Linked DNA regions of Homo sapiens. The protein of the gene in region 4 interacts with the protein of the main gene of each other region in a pairwise test. Each region holds a gene or a part of one and is shown on either strand. Other genes may lie near its edges. The genes, in order: MEOX1, KPNA3, ZBTB14 and ZCCHC10.

Region 1 (7,570 bases), on a different chromosome or scaffold from region 4:
GCCAGGCGCCCAAATCACTTTACCGTGCGCCTCCTGCTAGAGAGTCGCCCAGCCCAAGGCAGTGGGGCGCGGAGGCGGAGGACGGGGAAACTGAAATACAAAGGGATTGAGTGGAAAGCAATAGAGGGGGGTGCTGGGAGGGGAACCAGCTAGGCTCAAAGCTCCAAAGTGGATCGCCGGGTTAATGTGGGGTTCCTGCCTCGCCACCCACTCCCAATGCGGCTGCTTAGCCGACTGCATAGGCGGCTTCTCTGCTTTACACTAGGGGGTCTGAATTCCCCAGCCCAGTCCCCCAGGTAGCTTAGACCCGGCCTCTGAAAACAGAAGATCCCTCCTTCCAACACTCCTCGCCGGCAAGGCAGAGATGGGTCTTTCAGGGAGCAGGACGTTGGGCCGCAGGTTTCGGTAAAGCACCTCACTCGGAGCCACAGCCTCCATGTCTATAAAATGAGGAAAATGGACCGGGCGCAGTGGCTCACGCCTGTAATCCCAGCACTTTGGGAGGCCAAGGCGGGCAGATCACGAGGTCAGGAGATCGAGATCATCCTGGCTATCACAGTGAAACGTCGTCTCTACTAAAAATACAAAAAAATTTGCCGGGCGTGGTGGCGGGCGCCTGTAGTCCCAGCTACTCGGGAGGCGGAGGCAGGAGAATGGTGTGAACCCGGGAGGCGGAGCTTGCAGTGAGCCGAGATCGCACCACTGCACTCTAGCCTTGGCGACAGAGCGAGACTCCATCTCAAAAAAAAAAAAAAAAAAAAAAAGATAATTAATGAAGCAAACGTCTTTTAAATGTTAGAGCCCCGGGCTCCTGCAGCCATTCCCTGGCCACGTGGCATGCATTGCGAGTTAATTGTGTAAGTGTGTGGTCTTCTTCCCACCTCCTCTCCACCCACCACCTCCATTCATTAAAGTGAAGGTAGAGCTGCCTCCCACCCGTCTGCTCAAGAGATAACCATTCAGCCCCTTTTATTTGTTCAGGACTTTACCGTTTGTAAGCCCTTCCTAAATTTTTTTTTCAAGACGTAGTCTTGCTCTGTCGCCCAGGCTGGAGTGCAATGGCGTGATCTCCGCTCACTGTAGCCTCCGCCTCCTGGGTTCAAGCGATTCTCCTGCCTCAGCCTCCCAAGTAGTTGGGATTACAGGGGCGTGCCACCGCGCCCAGCTAATTTTTTGTATTTTTAGTAGAGACGGGGGTTTCGCCATGTTGGCCAGGCTGGTCTCGAGCTCCTGACCTCGTGATCCGCCCGCCTTGGCCTCCCAAAGTGCTGGGATGAGCCACCGCGCCTGGCCCCTACATACTTTTCATTTGAACAGTATGTGTGTGTCAAATCGCCTGAATTTAATTCTTGTCTCCCACACCCCCTGGCTGAATAAACTTGGGCAATTTGCTTAACTTCTCTGTGTTCGTTTTCTGGTCCATAAAGTGATACTAATACTAGAACCACTTGGTTGGGCTATTGAGGAATAAGAGGCTAATATATGTCAGGTACAGCACCTGGCACAGAGTGTGTCCCCTGACCCTGTTGGCAGTTATGACTGAGCCCCGCTGAATCTAACATGCAGCCTGCTTCAGAGGGCTCCAGATGGCTTTCCAGACTTGGCCCTCTGGGGCAGATTCTGATTCCGTAGGTAGGTCTGGGGCAGGCCTGAGATCCTTCAGGTCTGAACAGCTCCCTGGTGCTACTGATGCTGCTGGCACCCAGGCACTCCTTTGAGTGGTGAGGTCTTAGAGCAGCGGACTTGACTGTGCACCAGACGCATCTGGAGGGTTTGTAAAAATAGATTGCTGAGTGCCATCCCCAGAGTTTCTGACTTAGTAGGTCTGGAATGAGGCTAGGATTTGCATTTGTAACAAGCTCTCAGGTAATGCTGATGCTGCTGATCTGGGGACCATAGTTTGAGGCTTTGTTTTAGAGCATCTCACCCCTCAAGCTTATGGCCACCAGTAATGTCATGCTGGGGGGTGGGCTGGGGAGTAGAGGTCATTAAACAGCCAAGAGTAGCTTCTTATGCTTTGGGAATAAAAGAAAGTTTGGGGTGGGGGGAGGGTGGGAGGCAGGTACCTGAGATTGGAAACCAAAAATAAAAAATCTTCCCAATTCTAATATGGGTAAGACACCAGAAGGAATAAAAAGGACAGTGTAGCTTTTTTCTCAGCATCCTGTAAAAATAAGGGAGACTGGTAAAGACTGCCTAGTTGCTCAAGGGCAAAAGAAAGGGAATGGAGTCTCCCTCAGCCCATGTCTTCCTGTTTGGGGTCCTCTCTCCCCAGACAACCAGGAGAACAGAGGGAAGCCGGAGGGCAGCAGCAAAGCCCGCAAGGAGAGGACGGCCTTCACCAAGGAGCAGCTGCGAGAGCTGGAGGCAGAGTTTGCCCATCATAACTACCTGACTCGGCTCCGCAGATATGAGATTGCGGTAAACCTGGACCTCTCTGAGCGCCAGGTGCGCCCCCGGTGGGCCCCTCCTCTTCTTTGCTCTCTCATCTCCCTCCCTTCCCTCCTTTCCCACCACCCCTCCCTGGACCTTCTCCTTTTTCTTCCTCCAGCCAGTCCAGCGGTTTTCAACTGTGGCCACACCTGAGAATAGCCTGGGGAGTTTTGGGTTTTTTTGTTTTTTGTTTTTTGAGACGGAGTCTCGTTCTGTCGCCCAGGCTGGAGTGCAGTGGCGCGATCTTACTGTAACCTCCACCTCCTGGGTTCAAGCAATTCTCCTGCCTTAGCCTCCCAAGTAGCTGGGCTACTGGCGTGCGCCACCACGCCCGGCTAATTTTTGTTTTTTTTTTTAGTAGAGGCGGGGTTTCACCATGTTGGCCAGGATGGTCTCAAACTCCTGACCTCAGGTGATCCGCCCGCCTCGGCCTCCCAAAGTGCTGGGATTACAGGCGTGAGCCACTGCGCCCGGCCCCTGGGGAGATTTTAATAGTGCTGATGTCTGGGCTCCACCCCTAGGGATGATTTTAATTGGCCTAGGATGGGATACAGGCCTCAGAATTTTTCAAAGGCCCCCTAGGTGATTCTCACATGCAGCTAGGTTGGGACCTACGGTCTGGCTATTCCCAAATTTGAGTATATGTTGGAATCCCCCAAGGCACTTGTTCAAAATGTGGATTCTGGAGGTCCGGAGAGAGATTTTACCATAATGAGTGGGCCTGAGAATCTGTATTTCTAGTACATTCTCCAGGTGATCTGGATATGCAGCTGGTTCCTGGGCACACTTTGAGAAAAACTTCCCTGGCCCTTTGTTTTGGACTTTCCCTTCAGCCACCCCACACCCCCACACCCATGCTCTGATACGGAATAATAGTAATAATAACCGTAATATTTGATAGCAGATTTCAGTTGACAGAGCACTCTGCCAGAGGGCTGGATATTGAATCAGAAGACTTAGATTCAAATCCTGCCTCTATCACTTTTCCTAGCCCTGGGACCTCTGGGTCTCCATCTGTAAAATGGGATCATAATCCTGCAGGTAATACTCAAGCTCAGATGAGAAAATGTGCTTACCAGAGCTATCTAAACCAAAAAGTGCTCTATAAATGTGCCTAAGGATAAGGCTGATGACCTCTGCTCCCAGACCCTTGGGGAATGGAGGTAGGGGGCAGGGGGACCTGGCACAGGCAGGGCAGGGCATGTGAAGGGGGTGGGGCCAATGCAGAGTGCTTTTAGAACATGTTCCCCCGTCTGGGGCTTTATCCGAAGCCACAAGACAGACCTCTGGGCAGATTGGTATGTCCTCTCTTCGGTCCTAGTTCCTGGGGCCTTTGAGGGAGTAGGGAGTGGTAAGTGATGGTTTCAAGCTGGGGTCCCTGGAGTTACACCCTGGCTAGCCTAAGCATTGACATGGGGAGGAGGTCACACCGGCCCTGGAGTGACCAGGCTCCTTTGCTTCCTCCCCCAGGTCAAAGTGTGGTTCCAGAACCGAAGGATGAAGTGGAAGCGTGTGAAGGGAGGTCAGCCCATCTCCCCCAATGGGCAGGACCCTGAGGATGGGGACTCCACAGCCTCTCCAAGTTCAGAGTGAGATTCTGCATGGAGGAAAAATGACTAAGGACTGAGCCCCCTACCCAACTACCCCCACCCCAATCCCACCTTCACCCTCTTCCTTCCCCAGCCAGGGCAGCCTCTCCACATCTTTCCCTGACTCTTGGATATGAAACTGCCCAGCATTCCTGGGAGTCTTAGGATTTTCTAGGAAGTTCTGTCCAGCCTCTTAGCAGCCTCTTCCCTAGGGCCTTTGCTCCCACACTCTCATGGAATCAGACAGAGATCCTACCGGGCCGGATGAATCTGGAAACAGCTTCAGAGATACTGCTTCTCAGCGTCTCTTGGCTGCCACCCATGCCTCCTCCTACCGCTGTTCTCCTAGGTCAGCCAGGCCTCCTCCTGGTCTGGACACCACCTGGCCTGGTGGGAGAGGAGCTTTGGAACCAGCTGGCGACTCGGAAAGTAAATGCTTCAAAAGGAAGGAAATGACAGAGACACACGCCCTTGCCCACCTTCCTCTGTAGGCTGCACATCTGAGGCTTTGGGGCCCCTTAGTTGTCCCGAAACCCCAAGAAAAATCAGAATGAGGAGAGTCAAGGACAGCAACTCAGCTGCTGCAAGCCAGAAACACATCCCTGTCTCCAAATTTGTTGGCTAAGTGGAGACACTTCTGAGAACTGACTAGAGAAGACAGAAAAATAGCCCGATGTAGGTTTCGGTGTCCCCATATAGGCCCGTCCACACAGGCTTGACTGGGTGGACAAGAATGAACCCATGACAGCACCTGCTGCTTCAAAATCAAAATCAATTTAGGGATACAGCAGGGGCTGTTGGGCTGTGCTCCAGAGAAAAGGAGCAGCTACTCCTTTTAAATCCACGATTTCTGGATTGAAAACCTGTCCAGATGCTGAGTTGTTGGGCTGAACAACTAGGAGCTGAAAACAACGTAGAGGCTGGAAAGTGTCCCCTGCATTCTGGAGGGGAGGGGAGATAATAAGGAGGGCTGCTGGGTGAGGGCCTGGAGATGTGGAACCCTGGAGTGGAAGGTTCTCCAGTGACAGTGTCCTGTGACTGCAAAAGGGGACAAGAAAATCCCTCTTCCTCCATGGGATGGATTTAAGCTCTTGCTGTGTGTTCTACAAATGCTGTTATTGTGGGAGGAAATGCTAGGTTTTTGTGTGTGGACTGCCCAGACCTCAGCCAGGTCTTCTGGAGATGACATTTGAGGACTGATGGCCAAAGAGCATGGGGGACTGAAGCCCTGGCTGCCTCAGCGCTCTGTCTCCCAACACCAGCTGGTGTTGCAGAGGGAGGTCAACGTGAGTTTGGATCTCTTGTACGCAGATGTAATCATTCACATGTAAAAATAACCCCACCTCCCCACCCCAAAAAGGGCAAGAGCTGTGGAAAATGATTGCCAAATGAGATGGCTGGTTAGAGCATGATTTTTTCTAAAGCATACTTCATATATTTTCTTAAGATTACATCAAGCTAATTGTGCGAGCTCAATTCACTTTGTAAGAAAACTCTCGGAGAAATAAAATCAATAAAAAGCAAAGTTCCCAGGCCTTTTTCTTTGCAGAGCGAACAACCACAGCTCTTGTGTGCAACCTTCTGATTGACCAGACAATGTCTAGAAGCAAGAGAAAAAGGGAAGAAATGATCTAGACAGAGCTGTCCCCCTTTAGTTTTTCAAAAGGTGGGTACAAAATATAATTGGTGCCAAAAAAAAATTTTTCTCCAATGCAAATGCATGGTCTTCATTTCTCATTGTAAAAGTTTAGCTTTCAGTTTCCCTAAACTATGACCTATCAAATAGTCAATGTTTTATAAACAAAAGATGAACTCTTTTGTTAATAAAGGAATCTTGACCACAAAGTAACCATCCCTAATGTTTAAATTCAAAGTTTGGAGATTTTATTTTTCAAGGTAGAAAAATGTATATTAATAGTAGTAAAAAATGACATAAGAAAAAATATCCCATATTTTGTCTTTTTTTTTTTTTTTTTTTTGAGACAGAGTTTCGCTCTTGTTGCCCAGGCTGGAGAGCAATGTCTTGGCTCACTGCAACCTCCACCTCTTGGGTTCTCCTGCCTCAGCCTCCTGAGTAGCTGGGATTACGGCCATGTGCCACCACGCCCAGCTAATTTTTGTATTTTTAGTAGAGATGGGGTTTCTCCATGTTGGCCAGGCTGGTCTCCAGCTCCTGACCTCAGGTGATCCACCCGCTTTGGCCTCCCAAAGAGCTGAGGTTACAGGCCTGAGCCACCACGCCTGGCCTCTATGTCTTTTTAACTAAAAAACAATTTGTCTCACCAAGATGTCAACAATGGACAAAACAGGACTGGCTACGGTGAGGGGAGAGAGGGAGGCAGGAGGGGAGACCTGGCCAGGATCTTGCAATGAGGCAGCCTGGGCCAGGTGTGGGCAGTGCCTGGAAGTGACATCACCAGGACCTGGAATCAGGCAGACCCACCAAAATGAAGGTGCCAAATGGAAGTGGGTTCAGTGGCTCAGGTTCAGGTTCACAGCCAAGCAACATGGACACGCTCAGTCACCCCCGTCCACCCTCCTGCTGGAAACTCAACTCTGTGGCTTCAGGGGACATCACCCTCTTCTGGCTTTCCTCATCTGTCCTAGATGTTCCTTCTCTGTCCCCCATGCAAGCCCCTTTCTCGATGCTTCTGCTCTCACAGCTGGTTCTCAAGGTTTTCTCTTTCTTCCGCCACCTTCCCTATTTTTCAATCTCTCCCCAGATGATCCCATCCACCTACTTTTTTTGTTTGTTTGTTTTTTGGGACAGTCTCGCTCTGTCGCCCAGGCTGGAGTGCAGTGGCGTGATCTTGGCTCACCACAAACTCTGCCTCCCGGGTTCAAGCGATTCTCCTGCCTCAGCCTCCTGAGTAGCTGGGATATGGCTAATTTTTGTATTTTTAGTAGAGATGGGGTTTCACCATGTTGGCCAGGTTGGTCTCAAACTCCTGACCTCAGGTGATCCTCCCGCCTCAGCCTCCCAAAGCGCTGGGATTACAGGCATGAGCCACCACGCCCGGCCTATGTTTTTTTAAATTGTTGTAAAATACTCTAACATAAAATAAAAGTTATCATTTTAACCGTTTTGAAGTGCACGGTCCCGTGGCATTAAACATTTTCTCATTGTTGTGCAGCCATTGCCACTATCCATCTCCAGAACGTTTTCATCTTCCCAAACTGAGACCCTTTGCCTATGGAACACTAACCCCTATCCCCTCCCCTTCATTCACCTGCATTTACATAGTGTTTGCGCCATATTGAGCACTGTTCCGCTTTACATGTACAAACTAAGTGAATTCTCTTAGCCATCCTAAGAGGTAGTACTACCGTCATTCCCATTTCACACATGAGGTAACCAAGGCGGAGAGAAGCTGAGTAAACTCCCAAGGTTTTATGGTGGTTAGTGTTTGGGGTGGATTGTATTATTGGGCCTGGTTATCTTCTTCCCTCTCCACTGGGGAACATGCCTCCCTGATCATTGCCATATGATGCACCTGCCGCGGTAAGGGCACACTTCCTCACCTAATTGACATCAGCTTGTCCTTGTG
Region 2 (9,536 bases), on a different chromosome or scaffold from region 4:
GTGAATTTATTGGTAGAATGTATAGAGTAATTCACAAAACCAAGACAAAGCTGAAGAATCAAGCCTACGAAAGCAACTCCCACATATCTAGCCGGCAGGAATTAACGGATGGTTACCTTCACAGTACTTCTGTCAAGATGAATCAATTAGGTCTCAGTATCAGCTCACTCAAGATTTAAATGCCAGGGACAAATTAGCCTAATTTGTGTTAGCCAGAAAAATGTGAGGCACATTAATTAATCAGAGGCAGGAGCACCTACATTAAAAATCCCACCATAAGATAGCCAATGGCAGAAAAGTAGCTTCCAAAGGCCAAATCAGAAGGTTGTTTCCAAAAGCAGGGGGAATGGATACAATGCCCCTCATATCAGCTGCAGCTTAAACATGCCAAGCCTTTAGACTCCATGACACAGTCACTGTTATTCATACTATTTTTCTTTCTGAGTTGGCAAACTCATCCTTCAAGACCTACCTCAAGTATGACCTTCTGTGTAACCTTACTAATTTCCCCAGGTACAATCACACTTTTTCTATACTCTTATAGTACTTTACAAATTATCTACCTGTATCATAGAACTTACCACACTGTACACTAGCCATATGCTTAAGTATCAGTCTCTCCCACTAAACTGAACTTCCTTAGATCAGGGAATATTTTCATATTTATAATCTTTGGCACCTAATGATGTCTACATAGCATGTAGAAAATACTAAATAGGCTGCGCGCGGTGGCTCATGCCTGTAATCCCAGCACTTTGGGAGGCTGAGGTAGGTGAATCACTTGAGCCTAAGAGTTTGAGACCAGCTTGGACAACACGGCGAAACCCTGTCTCTACAAAAAATAAAAAAATTAGCTGGGCGTGGTGGCGTGCACCTGTCCAGCTACTTGAGAGGATCACTCGAGCCTGGGAAGTTAAGGATGCAGTGAGCCGTGATTGTGCCACTGTACTCCAGCCTGGGTGACAGAGCAAGACCCTGTCTCAAAGAAAAAAAAAAAGCTAAATAAATGTTTAATAAATCTGTTTCCCAAGTCACTAGAATATGTAAAGCATCAAATAAAAAGAAACATAGGGGCTACCACAAGTAAATATGCTGACAGTATCAAAAGAAAGCTGATAGACCAAAAGCAAGGGAAGGACAAGCCAAAAAAATTAAGAAGAGCAAAAACTCCACAAGCGTAAAAATCAAGAAGAAAATTCTGTTAATTTAACAACCTGAAGGCATCACTTATGTAAAAGCAAAACCCAATATCCATATGCATAATGGTGATTCTCAAGAACCAAGAAAACAACTAAATTATATTCTATTTAAGGCAAGTGTCAAAATAAAGTAAAATCTAGTATGTATACAACCTCCCTAACCCAGAAAACCAAGAATGATTAATTCCAAGTAAATATAGTCATGATTTATTTTACCATATTTTAACTGCTGATGTTGGCTATGCTGTAAGAAAATTTTTCTTAACAGCAAAACTGCAAGAAAGGATAGCTACATCCTCCTTATACTTTTAATATTCCTTCACCTCCACTTGAAAATGAGAATACAGTCCTCCCTCTGTATCCTCGGGGGGGTTGGCTCCAGATGCTCCCTCCCCCGAAGATACTAAAATCTGCAGATGCTCAAATCTCTTCTATAAAATGGCACAGTACAGTCAGCCCTACGAATCCACAGGTTACAAAGGGCCAGCTGTACAGCCAAACCGTATGCTAACTAAACAAAAGGTCAACTGAGGAGTGGTGTCAGTCATAGAAAGAAAATCCTACTGACTCTGAAGTTAGAAGTTCTAGATATACACTTTGTAACTCCTTTACTGGATACCAAGAAGTTACTTTTTTTTCCACTTCTTGAAATGTCATCAATTTCATGTCCCATTTCCCCCAAATAACTAAAATTCACTTCACAAACTGTTAAGTAACTTTCACATTGATGGCATTAAACTATTTGTTCTTTATCACCTGAACCCTACGATCATTCTTATTATCATTACTGAGATATATTCTAAGGTACACACTACCACCAACTGAAGTTTAAATAAATTAATAGAAGCTTAACTTGAAGCTAATCAAGACTTTAAATCAAACTTCCAGTTTAGACTGGGCTCAGTGGCTCATGGCTATAATCCCAGCATTTTGGGAGATTGAGGAGGGAGGACTGCTTGAGGACAGGAGTTCAAGACCAGCCTGGGCAACACAGCAAGACCCCATCGCTACAAAAAGTAAATAAGCTGGACATGGTAGTGTGCACCTGTAGTCCTAGCTACTCAAGACGCTGAGGCAGGAGGATCGCTTGAGCCATGATCGTGTCACTGCACTCCAGCCCAGGTAACAGCAAGATTCTGTCTCAAAAATAATGTTTAAAAATTTTTTTTTAAAAAAACTTCCAGATTACAAAAAATCTGAAGGGTGGTAAAAAAACAAATAAGAGGAACCAGTTAAGCACCACCAGAAGGAAACAGACAAACCCAGTAATTAGGACAGTCTATTAGGCTAAATATGAAATTGCCAATACTTGGCTGTTGTTACAAACCTGGAAAAAAGCAATTTCATATAGTGCAATTTAATAAAAGAAAACTGACCCGAACAAATTAGTGGCATTTTTAAATGGTTGGGAGACAACAGACTAAAGTTGGAAACAATCCAAGTATTCATCTATAGATGAATGGGTAAACAAAATGTGGTATATACATACAATAGAATGTTACTTAGCCATACAAATTAGCCTTAATCACTAATTCATTCACTATGTATATACCTTAATCTCCCAGAACTTTACCTGTCATAATAAAAAGCTTGGAGTTGATTTGGGAAGCAGTAGGAAAAGGCACTAAAAGAGTAAACATTTCAGTTCAAAAATACACATGGGAAAAATTATTGTGTCTGCGGTGCCTACGATGTATTTATTCAAGGAATATTTTAGTGCTTGCTTGGTTCTAGCCACTGTACTAAGTGGTAGGCAATGAAGATACATAGTCTGTGCCCTCAAAAAGCTCACAATCTAGTAGGAAAAATAAAATCTAATTAAAATACATTATCATAATTGCAACGAGAAAGATACACTCAGACTTCTTCCAGGAGCAAAGAATGGTACCTACCCAGAGTTGAGTATTTAAAAGTGGTAGGAATTAGCCAGGCAACAGGAGGCAGAGAAGGATATTCCAGTCAGCAAGATGGCCCTGAGAATAGAAATAGCACTGGCGAGGAGGGGCAGGCGGGATTCCAGATTATGTATAAGCATATAAGAAGTTCAGTGTTGCTAGGGCTTAAGGGGGTGGGGGAGGAAGGCTGAATCTGGAGAAATAATCAGGCATCAGGCTCACTGAAAAATCTCATAAACTAAAGGAAGAAAACCACTTTGGAGATAGTTTTTAAACAGGAAGGTGACAGGTAATAAGGCCTAAAGTAGGCTGGAGGCAGCAGAATATAGAGGCAGGGCCAAAATCCAGAGACAGCACAGAGATTCGAGCTACATAACTGGCATCTGACTGAATGTGGAAGAGGAGAAGTCCAAGAAGCCTCTCAAGTTTCAAATTCAGGTCACAGTGAGGGTGATGATGCCATAAACAGAAAAAAGAAAAAACAAAGGCAGAACATGGCTTTAAACACTTTGAGCTTGAGAAGCTAAAAAGATGCTCATGTGAATAATTTCCAGCAGATGATTTTATGAAATTTAAGTCCCCGCACATTGAAATGATGATTAAAGCCAAGGGAGTTGCTGATATGAGCAAGAAAAACAGTCTACAGATAAAAGAATCGTAGACAGAATCCCAAGCCATGCCTACTACATTCAAAGGGTAGGAAGAAGACTTACCAAAGCTGACTGAAAAAGAGTACTCCAAGAGAACCAGGAAGCAGTATATGCCCCATTAGTGAATTCATGAAAAAAAAAAAGTTTGTTTGCTATATGGCATATAGATTCCTGAAACACTTTACACTCTCCAAACTTAGGAAGAAGAGGGAAATGCACAGGATGGATGGTCGTTAAGCACCTTTAGACACTGCATATGGTTAAACAGAGCCAAGAGGCAGAACATGGGTGCATGGCCAATATGCATACTCCTGGGCTTGATCCGTTCAACTGTTTCTGTACTTTATGTTCAACTGTTGTTATTTAAGAGTGCTAAACATTAATGTGATACTAAAAATCACATATGAACCAATATGAACTTTGCCTTAACATTTTTTTATTAACCATTCAAGTATGAGCGAGTTCATGTTACAGAAATACATTATAGGAGAACAGGCTGTTCAAGGAGGGCTAGGCAACAGTATCAATGCCATGGAGTCAACACCAAAAGAAAATTAATGTCTTAGAATAATACTGAACCTTTCATTCCCAAATGTAGACTTTTTTCAGGTATATCATCTAGTCTCTCTTCTCATTAAGTTTCATGTTTCAAGTTACATCCAAGGTATCTATTCTCACTGAGCTTCTCAACAGAGCCCAAATACTTTAATAGCTATACAAACACAGAATTTGTTGTACATCACAGCAATTTATCCCAAATAGGTGAAGGAAAATTCACCTAGGAAAACACTAGAGAGGAGGAAAAGAATAGGGACTGATAGTACCAAGTATACTGTAAGTCAGGAAAGGCTCATGGAGAACTTTTAAAGTTTTTTTTTGTTTTTGGTTTTTAACTAGAATGACATGGTGTGGCAGAATTGTAATCTTGGTGTTCCAGAGATATATGAAGGAGTCTCACTGAAGAGATAGGTTGCCAGAGTGAACCCCAACTCAACAGATAGTCAAAAGAAGGCACACAGAACAGCATATACAAAGGCATGAAGAAGAAACTACTGGTTACTCAAGCATCTCCAGTACTTTATCACAGCTGGCACAAAGGAGATATAAGGAAAAGTGCAAGGTGAGGTAAAAAAGGTAAGGTCTTACAACTATGTGTGGCATGCTAAGGACTTTTATCCTGAAGTCAATGGGAAGGATCATAAACAGGAAAGTAACACAGAAAGATATGAGAAAGATCAATCCACAAGATACACTGGGGAGAGAAGATACTGAACACAGAAGAGCTAGGTACACTATTATACTTGTTCAGGCAACAAAGATAAGGGTCTAAACTAGGGGCAGAGGAAGTAAGGTTGGTAACAGGTACAAACATGAGGGTTCTTCAGATAACTAATACAAAGAAGGGTGAAGGAGGGGAAGAGAAGGGAGTCAAGGATAGAATCTTAAACTTGGACAATCAGATAGTGCCACTTAGCACTGGAGGTTCCAGAGACAGAAGCAAGTCTGGTAGAGCTAACTGAATTTTGCAGGTGAGAAAATATATATTAGCCCTGGTATCAGAAACTAAAGCATAAAGCTTAAGTGTTAAGCCCAAAGATACGGATTATCATTTTTTGGTAAAACCAACCAACTGGCTCCTTGCTGATAAGAAGGAAACTTTGCAAGAGTAAAAAGATAAAAAGGCAAATAAATCTAATAGTAAAGTTCATCAAAAATTTGCAAGGTTTTAAAGTATAGAAATAGCAATTTCTGTGATATAGTCGATATTTCTTCAATATTTTCCCCATTCACTAACTTTCAGGCGTGGTTTGTACATGTCAAGTCTTAGACTCCCTTCGGTGGAGTACAGCACAGTAAGCAAGAGTTCTAGCTTTAGCATCAAGCTTTATTTGTTTGTTTTTGAGACAGAGTTTCACTCTGTCGCCCAGACTTGAGTGCAGTGGCATGACCACAGCTCATTGTAACCTCTGCCTCCCCGGTTCAAGTGATTCTCTCGCCTCAGCCTCCCTTGTAGCTGGGATTACAGGCATGAGCCACCAGGACCGGCTAATTTTTGTATTTTTTTTTTTTTTTTGAGACGGAGTTTCGCTCTGTCGCCCAGGCTGGAGTGCAGTGGTGCGATCTTGACTCACTGCAAGCTCCGCCTCCCGGGTTCACGCCATTCTCCTGCCTCAGCCTCCCGTGTAGCTGGGACTACAGGCACGCGCCACCATGCCCGGCTAATTTTTGTATTTTTAGTAGAGACGGGGTTTCACCATGTTGGCCAGGCTGGTCTCGAACTCCTGACCTCGGGTGATCCACCTGCCTCGGCCTCCCAAAGTGCTGGGATTACAGGCGTTAGCCATTGCGCCCAGCCGCTTAGCATAAAGCTTTGATATATTGTAAGTCCAGGCTTTGCCACTTAACACCCGATGGAAGACTTAAGGCCACTTACTTAAGGGTTGTAGGCCTCAAGTTGCCTCAGCAGTAAATGGGGATAATAATAGTACTTACTTGATATAGGACTGTTGTGAAGATTAAATAGATAATCTATATAAAGTACTTAGCACTGATATACTGTAAACAATAAATGTTAAGGTTTTTAAAATAATTAATTACTGTTACTAATGAAAATGTCACACCCTTGAGGTATACAGCAGCAAGAAAATGAGTTGACCTGGATTGCAGTTACCTGAGCATTTGTTTTGTAATTATTCATTAAACAGAACATTTCTGTTTTGCACACTTTTCTATAAGTTATCTTTGAAAACAGGAAAAGTTTTTAAGAATCAATGCCTTACATGAAAAGGTCTAGCATTAAAATGCACATTCCAGGACCGGGCATGGTGACTCATGCCCCTAATCCCAACACTTTTAGAGGCCAAGGCAGGAGGATAACTTGAGCTAGCAGTTTGAAACCAGCCTGGGCAACATGGCAAAACCCCGTCTCTACAAAAAACACAAAAATTAGCCAGGTGTGGTGGCATGTGCCTGTAGTCCCAGCTACTCAAGAGGCTGAGATGGAAGGACGGCTTGAGCCTGGGAGGAGGCGAAGGTTATAGTGAGCCGAGATTGGGCCACTGCACTCCACCCTTGGCGACAGAGCCAGACCCTCTTTTTTTTTTTTTTTTTTTTTAAAAAAAAAAAGCACATTCCAGAACAAATAAAAGGAAATGTTTCCCTTTCAATATGTACTTCCTAGTTTTTGCTACAAAATGCATCCCCTACCCAAGCTCCAAATTTCTATCAGTGATGATAATTACTCCCTCCCTTCCTCCATTTATAAACCTCAGAATAACCTTTACTCCCTTTCTCTTCAGTGATCTTTATAAAGAGAATTTGAAGGAGGAGGAAGAGGGAGGAAGAACAGCATCATCAAATCCTCATTCCAGGTTGTAGCCATTCCCAGTCTCAATTTTTTGGAAAACTCTTCTTTGCAGATCAGACAACAGCGCTATTTCTCCAAAATGAATTCTAGGTATTACTGCCCTGTCACCCTTTCCATTGCTCTAATCATGTTACATCTCCTCTTTGCTCTGGAATAAATTCCTTCACATCTCCCTATTAAGAAAAAGCTTCCAAGCAACTCTTTGCCACAAGATATTCTTGCATCAACACAGGCCACCTGGAAGTCTCCTCTCTTTAATATAATCACTCTTCTTTTTTACCTGGATATTTATTCACCAGTTAACATGCCCCTTTTAAGTTTGGTACATATTTCCTATAAGATTCACTAACCTCATTTTTTTTTTCCTCTCCAAAGATCTCTTAAAGTCTCTCTCGATTGAATGACAAAGAAATTTTCTTCCTCAACCCTCTCTCTACTCAAATCCCCTGGCATAACTCTATCCTTTTATTTTCTTTAACAAGTATGGATCTTATTCTTGCACCTAACATCTTGTGTATCAGCTGCTTCTATAATTTATAACATGTTTTAGTTTTTGTCTATCCTATATGTGAAAAAATAGGCATCATAGCTTATCAAAGTGCATCTCACTGTTTTGGAACAGCCTGATAACCACAACTACTCAGTTACAGAGCTAAGTTGTACTGTTTCTAATGGACAAGACTAAGCATGGTTATCTACTCTTAGATATGCCTAAATCCCCAATAAAGGCCCTTCATCAGATTTGACCCCAGTTTACCCTTTAGTCTCTCTCTCTCCTACATTTCTCTCAGGACTCTTCAATTACTGCTCCCTCTAGTCTGGAATGCCCCTTTCTTCCACCAGCCTTCTCCCGCCCTTTGCCTGGCCACCTTTCTTTCATCCTTCACAATCAGCTCACTCCCATTCATCCATTAGAAATCAACCAGAGTATCTTCCCTTTCTGCTCACCTCCAAGTAGTTTTTTTGGCATGCATTTTCGGAATACTATACTGTAACAATTGTTGTTCTGCATTGTAATTATCACCCCCACTGGACTGTAAACTCCCTGAAGTACAGACTGCATCTTATTCCTTATCCCCAAGACCTAACATTGATAGATACCCAATAGACAATTAGTGAATAAATAATACCCATATCCACTGAGTGACATGCACAGGCTACATAAGCACACTGAGGTTTTTTATCTAAAGTTCCAGCTGGGTGTGACGACTAGCATCTGTAGTTCGAACACTTTGGAAGGCCGAGGCGGGAGAATCACTGGAGCCCAGGAGTTCAAGACAAGCTTGGGCAACAAAGCGAGACCCCGTCTCTAAAAAAGATTAAAAAATTAGCCAGGTGTGGTGGTGTCCGCCTGTAGTCCCAGCTACTTGGGAGGCCATGGTGGGAAGATTCCTTGAACCTAGAAGTTTGAGCTTGCAGCTGAGCTATGAGTGCCTGAGCACTCCAACTTGGGTAAAGGAGCAAGACTCCGTCTCAAAAAATACTTTACTCATGTAAAGTGGGGATAATGCCACACTTCATATACTTGTTACACAGATTAAATAAGGTATCATGAAGCTCGTAACAGTGTCTGCCACATTAGAACTACCATTTGAATGTCTATTTCATGTTTTAGTTACACTATAGAATCCCGAGAAATGTAATGTTGTGACCAATACCAGGCTGAATGGCTTAGCAACCATGCTCTTTTTCATGCATCTAAAAGTCACGGGTTACATTCTTATCAGCAAATATTTGTTGTGTACCTATTATGTGCAGGAGTCCTTACTAAGTATCACTGAGCTACCAGAACACAATAGAGGTAAACAATGAAACAAAAACCTGTACCAATATCCGAGAGAAGAATGTTACTGGTTTTTCTGTACAAACAATGAGTATTTTTCAATAAATTTTTATTTGGAACAGGATAGGCTTCAAGAAAAATTCCTAATGGGAAAAGTTCAAAATTAACACTTGTCATCAAGTGGACCAATAACAGGAGGCAGTTCCAAAATTTCTTGTTCCTATTCCCAAGTTTTACTTTCGCTTAGATGTATTTCTTACAAAGGGTATTTAACCATGACCAGGAAAGAATATATGATCTTTATTTGACTCATTTAAATGGGAATTCCACGGATATCTCCCTAGGTTCTTTCCTACTAGTATTTAATTTTGTAGCTCTGAAAAACGGCCTGAGTTTGTCTGTTTCTCTACAAAATAGAACACTGAATGGTATATTTACCCCACAACCTTCCTTAAGACAGGATAAAACACACCTCTTAATCACACTAGCTTATCAAAAATTACAAAACTGCAAATCATGTCGCCTAGTATTAGCAAAGAAGGCTGCGGCCTTAAAACCATTTTCCCCCTAACAAATCCAAAGGTCACGGTCCCAGTGAAGTTTGTGCATTATACTTACTGTTTTCAGTAGCTGCAGAGAGAC
Region 3 (6,741 bases), on a different chromosome or scaffold from region 4:
AGAAGAGAAGGGAGCCATCCAGAGAGGCCAGTGTTTACACCGACTACATTCCAATGATTTACTTTAAAATGTACACGATGGGAAATTACAAAATCAAAGACAACATTTAGACAAATATACAAGTTTGTAAGACCAGAGCCACAAATGGACCGAAGCTTACAGAAATACTAAGACAAACACAGTGTAGACATTTTCAGTTAATAACACTTAATGAGGTCTAGGTCTACAGCTGAGGGCCAATGATTGTAGAACTGAGAGATGCTTCTCAGCTTCTGTCTACTCCATTGGGAATGCTCTTTAGGAAGCGGGGAACATTTACAGTGAACCTAAAAAGTGTCGATGCTGGGGTTAATGTTTTTTCCTGGCCATCACATTAATCCTCAGCAGGCTGTGAGGCAGAAATACCAGTATTTTAGAGATGGTGAAACTCAGGCTGAAGGCAGTTAAGAACTTGTCTGAATTTGCAGTTACTGAGAGGCAAAACCAGGATCCAAATCTAAGTTTGTCTTGTAAAGTCTTTCCACTAAACCTCACCTCCTCGTTATACTGAAAAGATTTAAATGAGTATTGGTAGGTGGGAACATCTTTTGAAGAGATCATGAAAACACCCAACTGCTAAAATCTGTCACAATCCAGATAAATTACACCCAGGGCCCCTAAGATGAGATCAGTATGGCAACCTTTAAGGAATCATGGATAACAGGTGATGGAAAAACATTTTCAAAAAGAACATGTAAGACCAGACTGGGAAGGGGCACACTCACTCTAACAGCCAGGGACCAAACTGCTTCTGCCTTTGCATCTCCAGGGTCCAGCCCAGTGCCTCGCATATGATGCTCAACACAAGTAGGCAACATGCTATCTTTACATACCTTAAGTAGATGCAGGATTAACCCTATTATAAATAGTTCCCAGGGGGAAAGAGCTCCAGTTACAAGAGGGTAAGCAAAAATGGAGACAGACTTCAAAGGGAGTGAGAGCTTTCCGTTCTCTTTGCTGTAACAGTTCTCTGCCTCCGCCTAGGACTCAACCCTGCACCACAATCCTTACTATGTGCCAGCTCTACTACAATTGCACCCTAAGGCTTGCTAATCCTGAGAACAAAACACCACTAATAGCATTACTATGTGACAATGAATCCCACCTTCCAAATGACTTACAGATAACTACACAAAATAACCCATTAAGTTGGAAACTACATAAATTTGCATCATTTTCCCTCATCTTGTCTTTTTTTTCCTAACAAAATAGGGTGAATTTGTTAGTGTCAACCTCACTTGATGGCGACCTCTGTATTTTCTAACAATTCTAAATTAGTGATCAAGTTAATGGCCGGCAAATTACTTTACATTTAAACTTCCTAAATTTCTCTTCCTCAATCAGTGCCAATACAATGCAAATTAAGCACAAAAGCTAACATCAAGTTTGTAGCATTCTCTGTAAAAACAGAAAAAAGTCAATGATTTGTAAGTAATGAAAAGGTAGTAATGTTGACACTTAGCCTTGACCTTCCTCTTACATTACAGATTCAGAGTAACCACATTTCAGAATTAACTCCCTAGGGTGTTGGAGGTAACTTGAAGACTCTAACACGATGGCTCCACTATGCAGAGGACTACCAAATCCAGCCAGGTGTAGAGAGGCAGTGTTACTGACCAGGACCCAGCAGACAGGAGAGCTGCCATGATAGGATTCTGCTGCCACCAAAAATATATAAAGGAAACAGGTGCCCTAACACACGTGTAAACCCAGTACCAGTGGCAGAAATAACACAAATACATTTCTCATGCAAAATAGGCTAAATGATAAATATTTGCATCACATAGACTGCTGAAAATTAACCTTTCTTTTTGGGGGTTACCACCATGACTATGTGGTTTCAAAGGAGGTTAATATCACATGTTTAACTTCAACTCTGTAAAGCCAGGATGAAGCTAGCATACAAAATACATTTTGGTAGAAATCTAGGTATGTGGAAGGTTGCTATGAAAAAATGAAAAGAGGAATGATAGAAGTATATTTTCTTTTATATACAAAAAATGAAGTCCCAAAATATGGTTTGTTGAAGTAGCTATTGACAAGATGTTAAAATTATTTTTCCTTTGCTTTGGTTAAAACAGCCTAGGAACGGCAATCAGTTCCCCTTCTATAAGTAGCATAAAAACACAGTGACAGGACTACTTTTAGAACAGAATAAACAACTTTCAAGAAAAGAAATTAATTTTAAGTAAAATTAAACATTTTACCAATAACTAAAATTTTTAAAAAGGTAGCATCTTCATCCTAACATCTTGGGCATAACACACACCAATTAAAAAATCAAATTTCTTTCACAATAGAATTACAGGTGTTAATGCAACAAGCTATGAAGTGAAATTACTTTAATTTTTTTAAAAGAAATCCTAGCAATGAAAAATGAGTTTGAAAAATTGACATTTTCTACAATTCTACATTTTGAAAAATAATTGACTAATACTTTTTTACAGAACACAATTCAAACTATTGTTGGCATTTCAATATATTCCTAAAGATGGTTAAAAGAACATTTAGTATACCAAAACTGGAATAGAGTTTATAATTCTCATTTACGGCTATGAAAAGGCAATCAACTTCTATTTAAAACTGTAACCAGTGATGAAATATATTTCGAAAACATAAACATTTGGTCTGACAATCTTTAATATTTGTTAAAAACAGTCTGATGTTTGTTGCTGATGGAAGTTATTTTAATCCAATGTGCAAAAAAAGTGCAGCTGTCTACTTTTTACTTGAAATACGTAAGACCAACACTACTATTTACACACTTAAAAGATTTTAAATTTATTAATTTAAGTAAGCATACTGCATCTCCTTTATGGATAAATCATGTGCCCCACAGAGCCCCAAAGCTTGATGACATTCTGTAAAGTTACACAAATGTATCTGAAGAAGTTATCTGTTCTTGTCCTAATTTTGATTCTAAATAAAAATCCAATTTCAAAATCAATTAAGATTTTAATCTAGGAAATCTTGGGATTGTTACACATGTAAAAAACCTTATCTCTGAGAGCCTTTTCTATTCTTCTTACCACAGGTCCACTCACAAATCGCAGCTGGTATGGACTGGTACTGCCCCAAATAAGAGGAACCTAAGAGCTTGGCTCCAAGACCCCCCACCATCCCGGTGGGTTTGCTTGGCCTTTAGGATGTGTGACTACAGCTTTTGGGTAGGTACAGGGCAATCAAGATTGAGGAAGAACACTTCAGCAAAGCAACCATTATTTGTCCACAAAAACAGTGAAAAACAGTGATATAAAATTAACAAACCAAATATAAATCTAACGCCATTCTGCATTTCCAGAACTTTTTTTATATTTGTGCAGTGTTCTTGGTCAACCACTCACCAATTTTCTGCGTCTATCTGAAGTACTTTTAAAGTTATTAAAACTGCTCTTTTGACCATAAGTCACATAGAATTGTGATTAGGAAATCAATTTACTTATTACTCTGTGCAGGGCACTTGCTAGGGTGGTGAGTGTAAAGGAACTAAAAATGGAAGTCTCTCACTTCTAAACTGGACACAGGAGTTCTCAAATTAAAATAATAAAAAAAAAAAAGGGAGAGAGGTGCTTACTGGGCAACATTAATACTAGACACCAGACAAGACAGTGAAACGGTTTGGTCAGAACTGAGGAACACCATTTCCTTGAAAAGTCTTAAAAATAGCTAACCAAGCACTGCCTTAAGTCCAGTGAGTACAATGTTCCATACGTTTCCACAAAAATATTGTAACTGGCATTCACTCATTATGATCCACGTCATCTCAGTCTCCACTTTCCAGGCAAAGTGTCCCTGTCCCACCGCCTCTAGCTACAGGCTATCGTCTCCAGCTGCTGTTCTGCTTCCGCAGCCATCGCTGCCGCCTGCAACTGTTCTGTCTCGCTCTGGATGGCACTGGGGGTAACCTGCTTCCTTTCACTGTGCATATTGTTCTCGTGCCTTTTCAGATCAGATGCCTTGGCAAATGCCTTGGTGCAGGAGCCACACACAAAAGGCTTTTCCCCTCTGTGTCTTCTTTCATGATCCTTGAGGTGAGACTTGTGTTTGAAGGCTTTGTCACACATGTGGCACGCAAACGGTCTTTCATTACTGTGAACTCTCTCATGCTTCTTTAAGTCTGGGGCACGGATAAATGATTTTCCACACACCTCACAGCTATAGGGCTTATATCCTGTGTGGATTTTTAGGTGTTCTTTCAGGTGGGCCTGTGTGGTGAAACCTTTTGTGCACATTTCACAAACAAATGGCCTGTCCGCCGTGTGGAGTTTCTCATGCTTCCTCAATCTGCCTTCATCAGAAAACGTCTTCCCACACGCCTGGCAGGCAATCTGCTCCCGATGGTGACCATAAAGCAAATACTCAAACTTCATGTCACTGGCGGCTGTTGTCCAGCCTGGTGTCTGTTCATCTTTCACTTCACTCATCCCATCATTAAATGTTAAGGCTTGAGGGGTCTGGGACCCCAAGTCTTTTGATTCTGGGGTCTCCATGGATTCTACTTCCTGGCCGTAGCAATTGACCTTCCGAACTTCCTCACTCCCCAGCTCTTTCAGGATCGCTTCCTGAACCCTGAGCGTTGTGGTGGGCGACTTGCCGTCCTCCTGACTCGGGGGTGTGCCTTCTACTGTGTCATCAGAAGGACTGTCATCCTGATCCCCGATTTCCTCTACATCATCATCCTGGGTGTCAGCAGCATCTCCAATGGGGCGATTTATTTTAAGGCAATACTTACTTTTGGACTGACCATTGTTTTCATCGGGACTGGACACATCACGCTTCTGAGAACACAGTTTATCCAAAAATCGGATACCAAGAATCTGACCCGATGACATCATTAAGTTAACATCTTCTTTTTTCACGGAAATCTTTGCTGTGTACATGTAGTTCAGGACCTCTTCAAATATATCAGAACGAAGAAAATCTATTTCTATGACCGAAGAACTATCAACCTCAAGCTTCTTGAAAAGCTTTTTAAAGTAAGTGCTGCAGGCAGCAAGAACACATCTGTGTGCTCTGAATTTCACATCCTCAACCACAATAGCAATATCACAAAATTCTCCTTCCAGGCGTTGTTCATTTAGTGTTTTCAGAAACAGAGTTTTATGATCATCGTCATTATATTTAATGGTTTCAGACATACTGATGAAAAACTCCTACAAAAAAAAAAAAAGTTTAGTAATTATAAATAGTACTTTTCCATATAGAGAACACAGTCACATTTTCATTTCCTGGTCAATCTATGGAACCTAACAATTTCAGAAAGTCAATGTTAAGAGTGGTCTTTGAATATGGGTAGAAAAGACTGATCCCAACTCAAGGATCTCCATATTGTTACTCCTGTTCATCTTCAATTTACTAAGTATTTGCCTAGTTATATCCCAGGCATTGTTCTATGTGCTTTACATGTTTTAATTAATTTAATATTCAGGTAACCTCATGAGTACGTATCACTATCCTTATTTTAGAGACAAAGTTAGAAATCTGCCCAATATTCTATAGCTATTTAGTGAAGAGCTGGGACTTAAATGCAGACAATCTGGCTGCAAAACCAGTGCTTCCTGACTAGAGATAATCAAATAACTCAAACTCAAGTTTTAAGAAACAGGTTCAAGGGAACAATCCTCTAGTCCTCTCTGTTGCACCTACTCTTATTCCATCTACTCTATGGAGGATTCAGCAAAATAATTATGTTATACCTCCTTGACAGAAGGAACAAATTACTATTGCAGAACTAGAGAGGAACATTACTGCCAAAATATCCCATTGAGTGTTGTGTTCTAGATTTTCCACAGCACTTTTGGGCCACTTCTAAATGAAGGTCAAGGTTTAATCTGACCTTAAGAGAATGAGATGACATTTGGGAAGTGGCTTTGTTCTCTCTAGATGCCAATCTACCTGCATCCAGATAAAAGTGCCATCAACACCAGATGTAAGTACTTGATAAGTGCTGAGAGTATTTTATAAGCAAAAATTTGGAACTGGCATGAAAGATCTCTGTCATCATGTTAAAAAACTGGTCATCTTAAAGCATTCTCTATGTTTCCTTTTTAAAAACATTGTTTTACTTTTATTCGGCTAATATTTTCCCCCAGACAAATAGAAGTGTTCATGCACAATCAGAATTGGTATATATATTTTAAAGCAAATGCCAAGTCATTTTCATCAAGATTTAATATCCAAAGTTATAGTTACCATGAACAACTCAGGCTATTATCTTAATGCCTTGAACGCCAAAATCTTCAGATCAGAGTAACTCTGATCAGGAGCACGCCAGACCTACAGAGGAAAGGATAAACAAGAATGAGGTAGGATCTTCCTGTATCCCAAATCCTAAACCAAGAATTGATTTTTTAAAAATAAACTTTCTTGTTCCCTCTTTTGTGCATTTTCAGGTTGGGGAGAGTGGCAGGTAGGTAGCTGGTACATCAAGTGCAGTTCTGAACAGATATGGACTAGAACAGATAAGGGCTGTAGCACTCGGGCATAAAGGGGCTGTGCCCTAGGAACTGGAAGGAGGGGTTGGAGAACCATTAAGGGATTTCTCCTCACACACTAAGCTCATGTCCATATTTGTACAGAGATTGATGGCTACACAGATATAGAAAAAAACAAGTGCACCGTGCCCCCTACACCTATCCCATTTCCCGCTGGGTATGTTAGCCCTCTACATTTTTCTCTCGGCTCATACAAACCTATAGAAGT
Region 4 (8,601 bases):
TTTATATGTCTTTGTATAGTACTTTCCAAAGAAGAGTTCTGTTAATGTTTGTGGTTATTACTGATTAGCTTGAATAGCAGACACAAATGCCCTGGGGGGTACACAAAAAACTTTCAAGAACATTGAAGTTATTAAAGCGATTCTCCTGCCTCAGCCTCCTGAGTAGCTGGGATTATAGGCATGCGCCACCGTGCCTGGCTAATTTTTGTATTTTCAGTAGAGATGGGGTTTCACCATGTTGGTCAGGCTGGTCTTGAACTCCTGACCTCATGATCTGCCTGCCTTGGCCTCCCAAAGTGCTGGGATTACAGGCGTGAGCCACTGTGCCCAGGGGTGCCTGGCTAATTTTTGTGTTTTTTGTAAAGATGCGGTTTCACCATGTTGGTCAGCCTCGAACTCCTGAGCTCAAGCAATCCGCCTGCTTTGGCCTCCCAAAATGCTGGGATAACAGCCGTTAGCCACCGCGCTCAGCCTGGAACCACCTTAATCAAGTGATCAAGGTCAACATTGCCAGTAATAAATAAGACACATGAACATTATGAATCTCATGATATGATTGAGGACATTCCATTTCCGTAATATTCTTCCAAAAAGCATAACCTCAGTTCAATCACAAGAAAATATCAGACAAATCCAAATTTTTTTTTAGACAGTCTGTCACCCATGAAGGAGTGCAATGGCACAATCTCGGCTCACTGCAACCTCCACCTCCCAGGTTCAAGCGATTCTCCTGCCTCAGCCTCCTGAGTAGCTGGGAGTACAGGCGTGCGCCACCACGCCTGGCTAATTTTTTTGTATTTTTAGTAGAGAGGGGGTTTTACCATGTCGGTCAGGCTGATCTTGAACCACTGACCTCAAATGATCCAGCCACCTCGGCCTCCCAAAGTGCTGGGATTACACGCGGGAGTCACCACGCCCGACCAAACAAACCCAGATTGAGGGGTATTAGACAAGATAATTCTTCAAAAGTGACAAGGGCATGAAAGACAAGGTAACACTGAAGTATTGAGACTGTAGTAAAGGTAGAACTAAAAGTATTTCTGGGTAGTATTCTGGAATATAAAAAGGATATTAGTGGGAAAATGAGCAAAATATGAATAAGGTTTTCAGTTTAATAGTATTTTACTATGCTATAATAGGATGTCTTTAAAAAATAGTATTTTACTAGATGTTAAATTTCTTGGTTCTGGCAATTGTGACATGGTTATGTAAGACGTTAACACTATGGGAAGCTAGATGAGGTTTATAAGGAAATTGTACTATTTTTGCAACTTTTCTATAAATCTACAGTTCAAAATTTAAAAAGAATAAATATGGCTAAGAATATGAAACACCCTCTCTGCACTTTTTCCACTTCCAGCGTTAACTTATGGCTAATGCTGTATTTTCATTCTAGGGTAAAATTGCTATATAAAGTCTATTAATATAAACAAAATGTGTGTGGAATGAAAACCTATGATCTAACGACTCCTTTTGATATGAATGTGGTTAAGTAACATACTCACTACATTTGCCAGGGACTCAACTTCCAGAGTCCTGCCTTTAGGCAGGACTAAAAATAAAACTCTCTAGAAGTTAGTCTCCACTTTGCCATTGATTCTGTTTTTTGTTTTTTCTCACTCTGTCACCCAGGCTGTAGTGCAGTGGCACACTCATGGCTCAGTGCAGCCTCAACCTCCTGGGCTCAATCTATTCTCTTGCCACAGCCTCCTGAGTAGCTGGGACTATAGGGGCACATCACCATGCCCAGCTAATTTTTTAATTTTTTGTAGAGACAGAGTCTTACTATGTTGTCTAGGCTGGTCTCATATTCCTGGACTCAAGTGATTCTCCCGTCTTGGCTTCCCAAAATGTTGGGATTACAGGCATGAGCCACTGTGACCAGCCTGATTCTGTCATTTTGAATGAAATGTGTGACTAGAAGAACTGAGTTCCTGCTCTCTGTACCTCTGCAGTCATACTTTTAACAGCCATAATAGTAAAACTTTAAAATTGGAATTTGTTCAAATGTCTTTACACCTCAAATGGAATAACTGACATTAAATAAAACACTAAAGAGATAACAGAAGTTTAAGCTTGTGAGCACAAATTGTGAGTTTTATTTAACTGCAAGTGATGCAACCTATGTAACACATTCTTTTCTCATCCGTGTTCTTTAACTGCTAATATTACCTTTACAGAGACAAACATTATAAAATGTGCCTGATTGGTAATTTATTAACTCTATCTGTCAAGTGATAATATTCTGTAGGCAGCCTTTGAAATGATGTTTTGAGAATTTATTTACAACCATTGAACACAGATGGTTTTGTAAAACTGACAATTACAGGCTCCTTAAACTCACAACATACATATATTTCAATATTTAAATAGCCTGTTTTCTTCAAAAGTAATTTTCTACTGCTTTTTCATAAAAATATAAAAAAGACAACATTTATAGTTTTAAAAACCTATATTTAACCCAAATCAAATTTTTTCTACAAATGATACCTCTTTCCAAAAAGTTAAAAAGACATCACAGAATACTGTGATGTTAAACCAAAGACTCATCACAATAACAGCATTTTACTTTTAAGAAATATTGTGCAGTATCTCCTTTTTAACCTTTCATGCTAGATTTCAACTATGTATATCCTATGTAAACACACCAGATTAATCCTAGTCATTCATATATATGCAGTAGACTGTCATATATGACCAGTTACCATACAAACTATAATACCATATTTTCAAAAATAGCAAAAAGCAATCTTTATGAAAGCTTAAAAAAAGCTTTTAATAAAAGGCGACCAACATTGCCCTAATTTTCAGTAAAAATTACCTCTTCTTCCTACCTTTCCCCCTGCTTTGAATGGTACCTTTTATTGCATGTTAATACACAAAGATATTTCTAGCACTTCTATTTAAGTTAGCCTCTTACATGGCTGCTTTCTTTTCTGATACACTGACTTTTAACAGAAGGCACCAAGATTAGACTCCTAAGAAGTTTCAATTTTTTTGTCCCTTTTTAGGTTCCTCTAGAATAATTTTCCTCAGAAAAGGATAACTTGAAAAACTTAAGGAACCAGAAGAAAATGAATGACGTAACACAGCAATTTGAAACTTACAGCATTCAAAAACTATAAATATATTAATAGGCTCCTTGAACATACCACTTAGGACAAAAAGTCAGATAACTTTCTGAACATAAATGTAAAAATAGAGCACATTTATTAATAGTAGGAAAACTCCTAAGCTTACAGTAACAACATATTAAATCTTACATAACATACAGCCAAAAGCATTAGAAATCCACTGCCAGATATCCTGACGCACCATCCTGAAAATATGTCTGATACATACCACTAACATATATAACAAAGTATGGCATTTATTTCACAGAGAGAAAAGATAGTTTCATCACACAAACAGATTTGCAGATTTCAGCTTTAAGTTCTAGAGATATATTTTAAAGATAAAAAAAACAAGATTCACCCTTCAAATAAAAGTCTCTCTCTATAAGCCATTATTAATATTCTCTATGCTCTTACAATGTAAAACATTTAGAAACTTTTGAATTCTAGAAATGTTCACCAGTTAACCTACTTGGCCTTAACATATTCTAAATTCCCTTTCAAGAATCACATCAATGTTTTCAGTCCATCAGTCCAATATGAATGGAGCAACTCTATTTCTTTTTCTTCTTCTTTGGTGGTTCATCGTCAGAGCTGCTATCTGTGCTGGTGCTACTGCTACTGGAAGAGCTGGAATCTGAGTCTGAATCAGAGGAGGAGGAAGAGGTTGTGGAGGAGGCTGAGGATGAGGAACTAGAGGAGCTTTCATCAGTGTCACTGTCCTCTGAGGAGGAAGAGGTAGATGTTTCTTCACTCTCTGATGAAGAATCACTGGCAGAACTGTCACTGCTACTGCTACTGGAACTGGTTACACTCTTAGACCTATTAGACAATACAGAGTTATATACATGGGAAGGTGACATGTAATAGAATGTTAAAAGCAATTTCATTTTTTTTTTCTTTTCGAGACAGAGTCTTGCTCTGTTGCCCAGTGTGGAGTGCAGTGGCACAATCTCAGCTCACTGCAACCTCTGCCTCCCAGGTTCAAGAAATTCTCTTGCCTCAGCCTTCCAAGTAGCCAGGATTACAGGTGCGCACACCGACGCCCAGATGATTTTTGTATTTTTAGTAGAGACGGGGTTTCATCATGTTCACCATGTTGGCCAGGCTGGTCTCGAACTCCTGACCTCATGATCTGCCCGCCTCAGCCTCCCAAAGTGCTAGGATTACAGGCGTGAGCCACCGCGCCCAGCCAAAAGCGATTTCATATGATTCCATATATATGCTTATATATTGAAGCTTTGCTAGCATGTTATCCTTAGGTTTGATATTTTGGAGATTGCCTGTTGTAAACCACAGTCCCTCTCTTTACAAGGCATTGTTACTTCAGCAACTTAATTCTCTTGGATGGAATTCAAGATAAGCATATCTACTATATTACATTTCAGAGGGAATAATGTCAGAATAAAGCTGCAGTATAACAATTGGGTCTATTTAAACCTCACGTAGCTTAGCTGGTGACTGTTTCATCATCTTTATTTTAACTACTTCAGACCAGATATGGCTGGCCAACAATTTCTTACCAGTCTATTAACACTTCCTATTCTAAGCCAAGAGAAGACAATTATTTATTGTTTCCACGTACAAGGACTCTAGAAAGTTGGAGTAAAAGGAGAAATGGAAGCAATGCATTTCCAGACAGGTTAAAAAAAGGAACTTATCAGAAAATAGGATGATTATTTAATTATAAATTGCAGTAAGAGGCTTCAGATCCAAATCTTATAGCTATTTTTTTTTGAGACAGAGTTTCGCTCTGTTGCCCAGGCTGGAGTGTAATGGCATGATCTTGGCTCATGGCAACCTCTGCCTCCCAGGTTCAAGCAATTCTCCTGCCTCAGCCTCTCAAGTAGCTGGGATTACAGGCATGTGCCACCACACCCAGCTAATTTTTCTATTTTTAGTAGAGACACGGTTTCACCATGTTGGACAGGCTGGTCTCCAACTCCTGACCTCAGGTGATCCACCCACCTTGGCCTCCCAAAGTGCTGGGATTATAGGCATGAGCCACTGCATCTGGCATAGCTATTGTTTTAAAATCACCTTTCCCATCCCGCCAATTAGTATTACATGTTATCTATAAAACACTGCTAAAACCACACATACCTTTTTTTCTTGGCCTTTCTTTCTACATTGGTTTCTCCAATGCTGATAAACACGAGGGGGAAAAAAGCTCCTGTTAATAGAGTGATTATACACAGCTCAGACAAGCCCTTCTACTATCCCCCAAATCATTTTACTCTGGAGAAAGATTCTGTGTTTTTATCACATACAGAGTACAGTATTTCTTATTATAAGCAAGTGGAAAGTCTGCCATTGTAGGCTGTATACGGTACATGCAGTCAACTTAACCAGCATTTAAGCAAGACAATGCATCTTAGCACGTGTATAAAAGTCAGGTAGGTTAGTAGTTAAGATGATTAAATTTTTTTAGTCTGGAACTTAGGCTGATATAGCTGTATCACTACCTCCTGAACAACAGAACAAAGCTAATAGCACAATAGCCCTAATTTGTAGTTTGAGTTCTCAGAATCATACAAATAGCCATTTCATAATTTTTCAAAAGCAGCCCTTTAATTTAAAATAACTATTTCTTTTTCTGCATGTCCCGTTATTTACTTTTTTTTTTTTTTTTTTGAGACAAAGTCTTGTTCTGCTGTCCAGGCTGGTGCAGTGGCGCGATCTTGGCTCACTGCAACCTCCGCCTCCTGGGTTCAAGGAATTCTTCTGCCTCAGCCTCCTGAGTAGCTGGGACTACAGGTGTGTGTCACCAAGCCCGGCTAATTTTTACATTTTTAGTAGAGACAGGGTTTTATCATACTGGCCAGGCTGGTCTCAAACTCCTGACCTCATGATCCGCCCACCTTGGCCTCCCAAAGTCCTGGGGATTACAGGTGTGAGCCACCCTGCCTGGCCGAGTTATTTACTCTTTAAAGACCAGAAATGTAATACTTCAAAACTATGCTCACTCACATTAGTTATAAAGTCTGGTAAATTTGAATGAAAGGGACAAATAGCTTGCTGCTATTATTCTGTCAAACAACATGCATACTAAATCAGGTTTTTAAATTACACAATTAGGCCAGGTGCGGTGGCTCACACCTGTAATCCCAGCAGTTTGGGAGGCCGAGGCAGGCAGATCATTTGAGGTCAGGAGTTCGAGACCAGCCTGGCCAACATGGTGAAACCCTGTCTCTACTAAAAAAAACACAAAAATTAGCCAGGCTTGGTGGTGCATGCCTGTACTCCCAGCTACCCAGGAGACTGAGGCAGGAGAATCTCTTGAACCTGGGAGGCAGAGGTTGCAGTGAGCTGAGATCGCACCATTGCACTCCAGTTTGGGCGACAGAGCAAGACTCTGTCTCAAAATAAAAACAACAACAACAACAACAACAAGAAAAAAACAATTAATTCTATCACCACTGTCCTGTAAATTTAACTTTTTTTTTTCTTTTTGAGATAGGGTCTCACTGTTACCCAGGCTGGAGTGCAGTGGCATGATCTTGGCTTACCGCAACCTCTGCCTCCCAGCCTCAAGCAATCCTCCCACCTCAACCTCTGGAGTAGCTGGGACTACAACACGCACCACCATGCCTAACTTTTGTATTTTTTGTAGAGACGGGGTTTGACCATGTTGCCCAGCCTGGTCCTGAACTCCTAAGCTCAAGCAATCTGCTCACCTCAGCTTCCCAAAGTGTTGGGATTACAAGTGTGAGCCACCACACATGGCCAATGTTTTTATATCCTGGCCTTCTCTATATTTCCTAGATAATGCTTCCATCATTGTTTCCTGAGTCTCCAAACATAAACATGTATTTATGTAAAGTTTTTTACACAATGGAATTACTTACTGAATTGTCATTTTGGGCATAAAATAAGAGGGTGAAGTATACTTATTAAATTATAACTGAATCAAAATTCAGCAATCTTTTTTTTTTTTTTTTTTTTTTTTTTTGAGATGGAGTCTCCCTCTGTCGCCCAGGCAGGAGTGCAGTGCTGGATCTCGGCTCACTGCAAGCTCCACCTCCCGGGTTCATGCCATTTCCTGCCTCAGCCTCCCGAGTAGCTGGGACTACAGGTGCCCGCCACTATGTCTGGCTAATTTTTTTGTATTTTTAGTAGAGACAGGGTTTCACCATGTTAGCCAGGATGGTCTCGATCTCCTGATCTTGTGATCCACCCGCCTCAGCCTCCCAAAATGCTGGGATTGCAGGTGTGAGCCAAGGTTCCTGGCCAGCAATCTTTTTTAACAGAGCCAGATTCATGTAATTATATATATTTTTAGACCAAAATACTTGTGAGATACAATTAGAAAAACAAAAGTAAATGTCAAAATAAAATTTTATTTATGTATTTATTTTTTGTAGAGGTGAGACTTGCTATGTTGCCCAGGCTGGTCTCAAACTCCTGTCCTCAAGTGATCCTCCCACCTTAGCTTCCCAAAGTGCTAGGATTATAGGTGTGCGCCTAAACTAGAATGAAAATTTTCATAACCCGTATTTCATTCTTTAGGACAGGGGTCTTCAAACATTTTTTTGCTTACATTCCTAATAAAATAATTTCTGGAAAACTCATACTTGCAATTCTAAGTTTTAATATTTGCAAAGGGCATATTATATACATATTATAAAAAGTTCTACAATAATTTAATACCTATTATTCACATAAGAACATATGAACATTTTTAACAGCTGATACTTTTTCTTTTTTTTGAGGTGGAGGCTCGTTCTGTCGCCCAGGTGGGAGTGCTGTTGCATGATCTTGGCTTACTTCAACCTCTGCCTCCTGGGTTCAAGCAATTTTCCTGTCTCAGCCTCCTGAGTAGCTGGGATTACAGGTGCCCGCCACCATGCCTGGCTAATTTTTGTACTTTTAGTAGAGATGGCGTTTCACCATGTTGGTCAGGCTGGTCTCGAACTCTTGACCTCAGGCGATCCACCCACTTCGGCCTCCCAAAGTGTTGGGATTACAGGTGTGAGCCACCACGCCCGGCCTTTTTTTAAGAAACAGGGTCTTGGCAGATACTACTTAGCCCAGGGCCTGGTGGCTAGGCTGGTTGTCTCCTTTCCAGTTGGAGGCTTCTGCTGCAAACATTCTCCGCCAGATCATGGGTCAGGCCAAGAAGCATGCGAAGTTGATCCCCCTTTTTGTATTTATTGGAACTGGAGGTATTGGAGCAGCACTGTTTCTCTCGCCTCTGACATTGTTCAATCCAGATGTTTGTTGGGACAGAAAGACTAACCCAGAGCCCTGAACAAACTGGGTCCCAATGATCAATACAAGTTCTACTCAGTGAATGTGGATTACAGCAAATTGAAGAAAGAAGGTTCAGATTTCTAAATGAAATGTTTTACTATAAAGCTCCTTTAGAATGAAGGTCTTCCAGAAGCCATCCGCACAATTTTCCACTTAACAGGAAATATTTCTCCTCTAAATGCATGAAATCATGTTGAGGTAATCTACTGGAGATTACACTGATTAATAAATAACT

The links.
Region 1: the proteins of ZCCHC10 (region 4) and MEOX1 interact in binary tests that used the Homo sapiens proteins (3 or more experiments, as listed by UniProt).
Region 2: the proteins of ZCCHC10 (region 4) and KPNA3 interact in binary tests that used the Homo sapiens proteins (3 or more experiments, as listed by UniProt).
Region 3: the proteins of ZCCHC10 (region 4) and ZBTB14 interact in binary tests that used the Homo sapiens proteins (3 or more experiments, as listed by UniProt).

Annotation. Positions count from the first base shown.
Region 1 is NC_000017.11:43,638,366-43,645,935, reverse strand, and holds the end of MEOX1 (homeobox protein MOX-1), read left to right. Parts: intron 1-2,275; coding exon 2,276-2,448; coding exon of another isoform or gene 2,449-2,459; intron 2,460-3,903; coding exon 3,904-4,026; 3' UTR 4,027-5,547; downstream 5,548-7,570. UniProt on the Homo sapiens protein: Mesodermal transcription factor that plays a key role in somitogenesis and is specifically required for sclerotome development. Required for maintenance of the sclerotome polarity and formation of the cranio-cervical joints.
Region 2 is NC_000013.11:49,781,880-49,791,415, forward strand, and holds part of KPNA3 (importin subunit alpha-4), read right to left. Parts: exon of another isoform or gene 9,513-9,536; intron 1-9,512. UniProt on the Homo sapiens protein: Functions in nuclear protein import as an adapter protein for nuclear receptor KPNB1. Binds specifically and directly to substrates containing either a simple or bipartite NLS motif.
Region 3 is NC_000018.10:5,287,013-5,293,753, forward strand, and holds the end of ZBTB14 (zinc finger and BTB domain-containing protein 14), read right to left. Parts: intron 6,316-6,741; 5' UTR 6,235-6,315; coding exon 6,232-6,234; intron 5,193-6,231; coding exon 3,846-5,192; 3' UTR 2,010-3,845; downstream 1-2,009. UniProt on the Homo sapiens protein: Transcriptional activator of the dopamine transporter (DAT), binding it's promoter at the consensus sequence 5'-CCTGCACAGTTCACGGA-3'. Binds to 5'-d(GCC)(n)-3' trinucleotide repeats in promoter regions and acts as a repressor of the FMR1 gene.
Region 4 is NC_000005.10:132,994,916-133,003,516, forward strand, and holds the end of ZCCHC10 (zinc finger CCHC domain-containing protein 10), read right to left. Parts: intron 8,451-8,601; exon of another isoform or gene 8,182-8,450; intron 5,505-8,181; exon of another isoform or gene 5,481-5,504; intron 5,287-5,480; coding exon of another isoform or gene 5,259-5,286; coding exon 5,217-5,258; intron 3,936-5,216; coding exon 3,668-3,935; 3' UTR 2,070-3,667; downstream 1-2,069.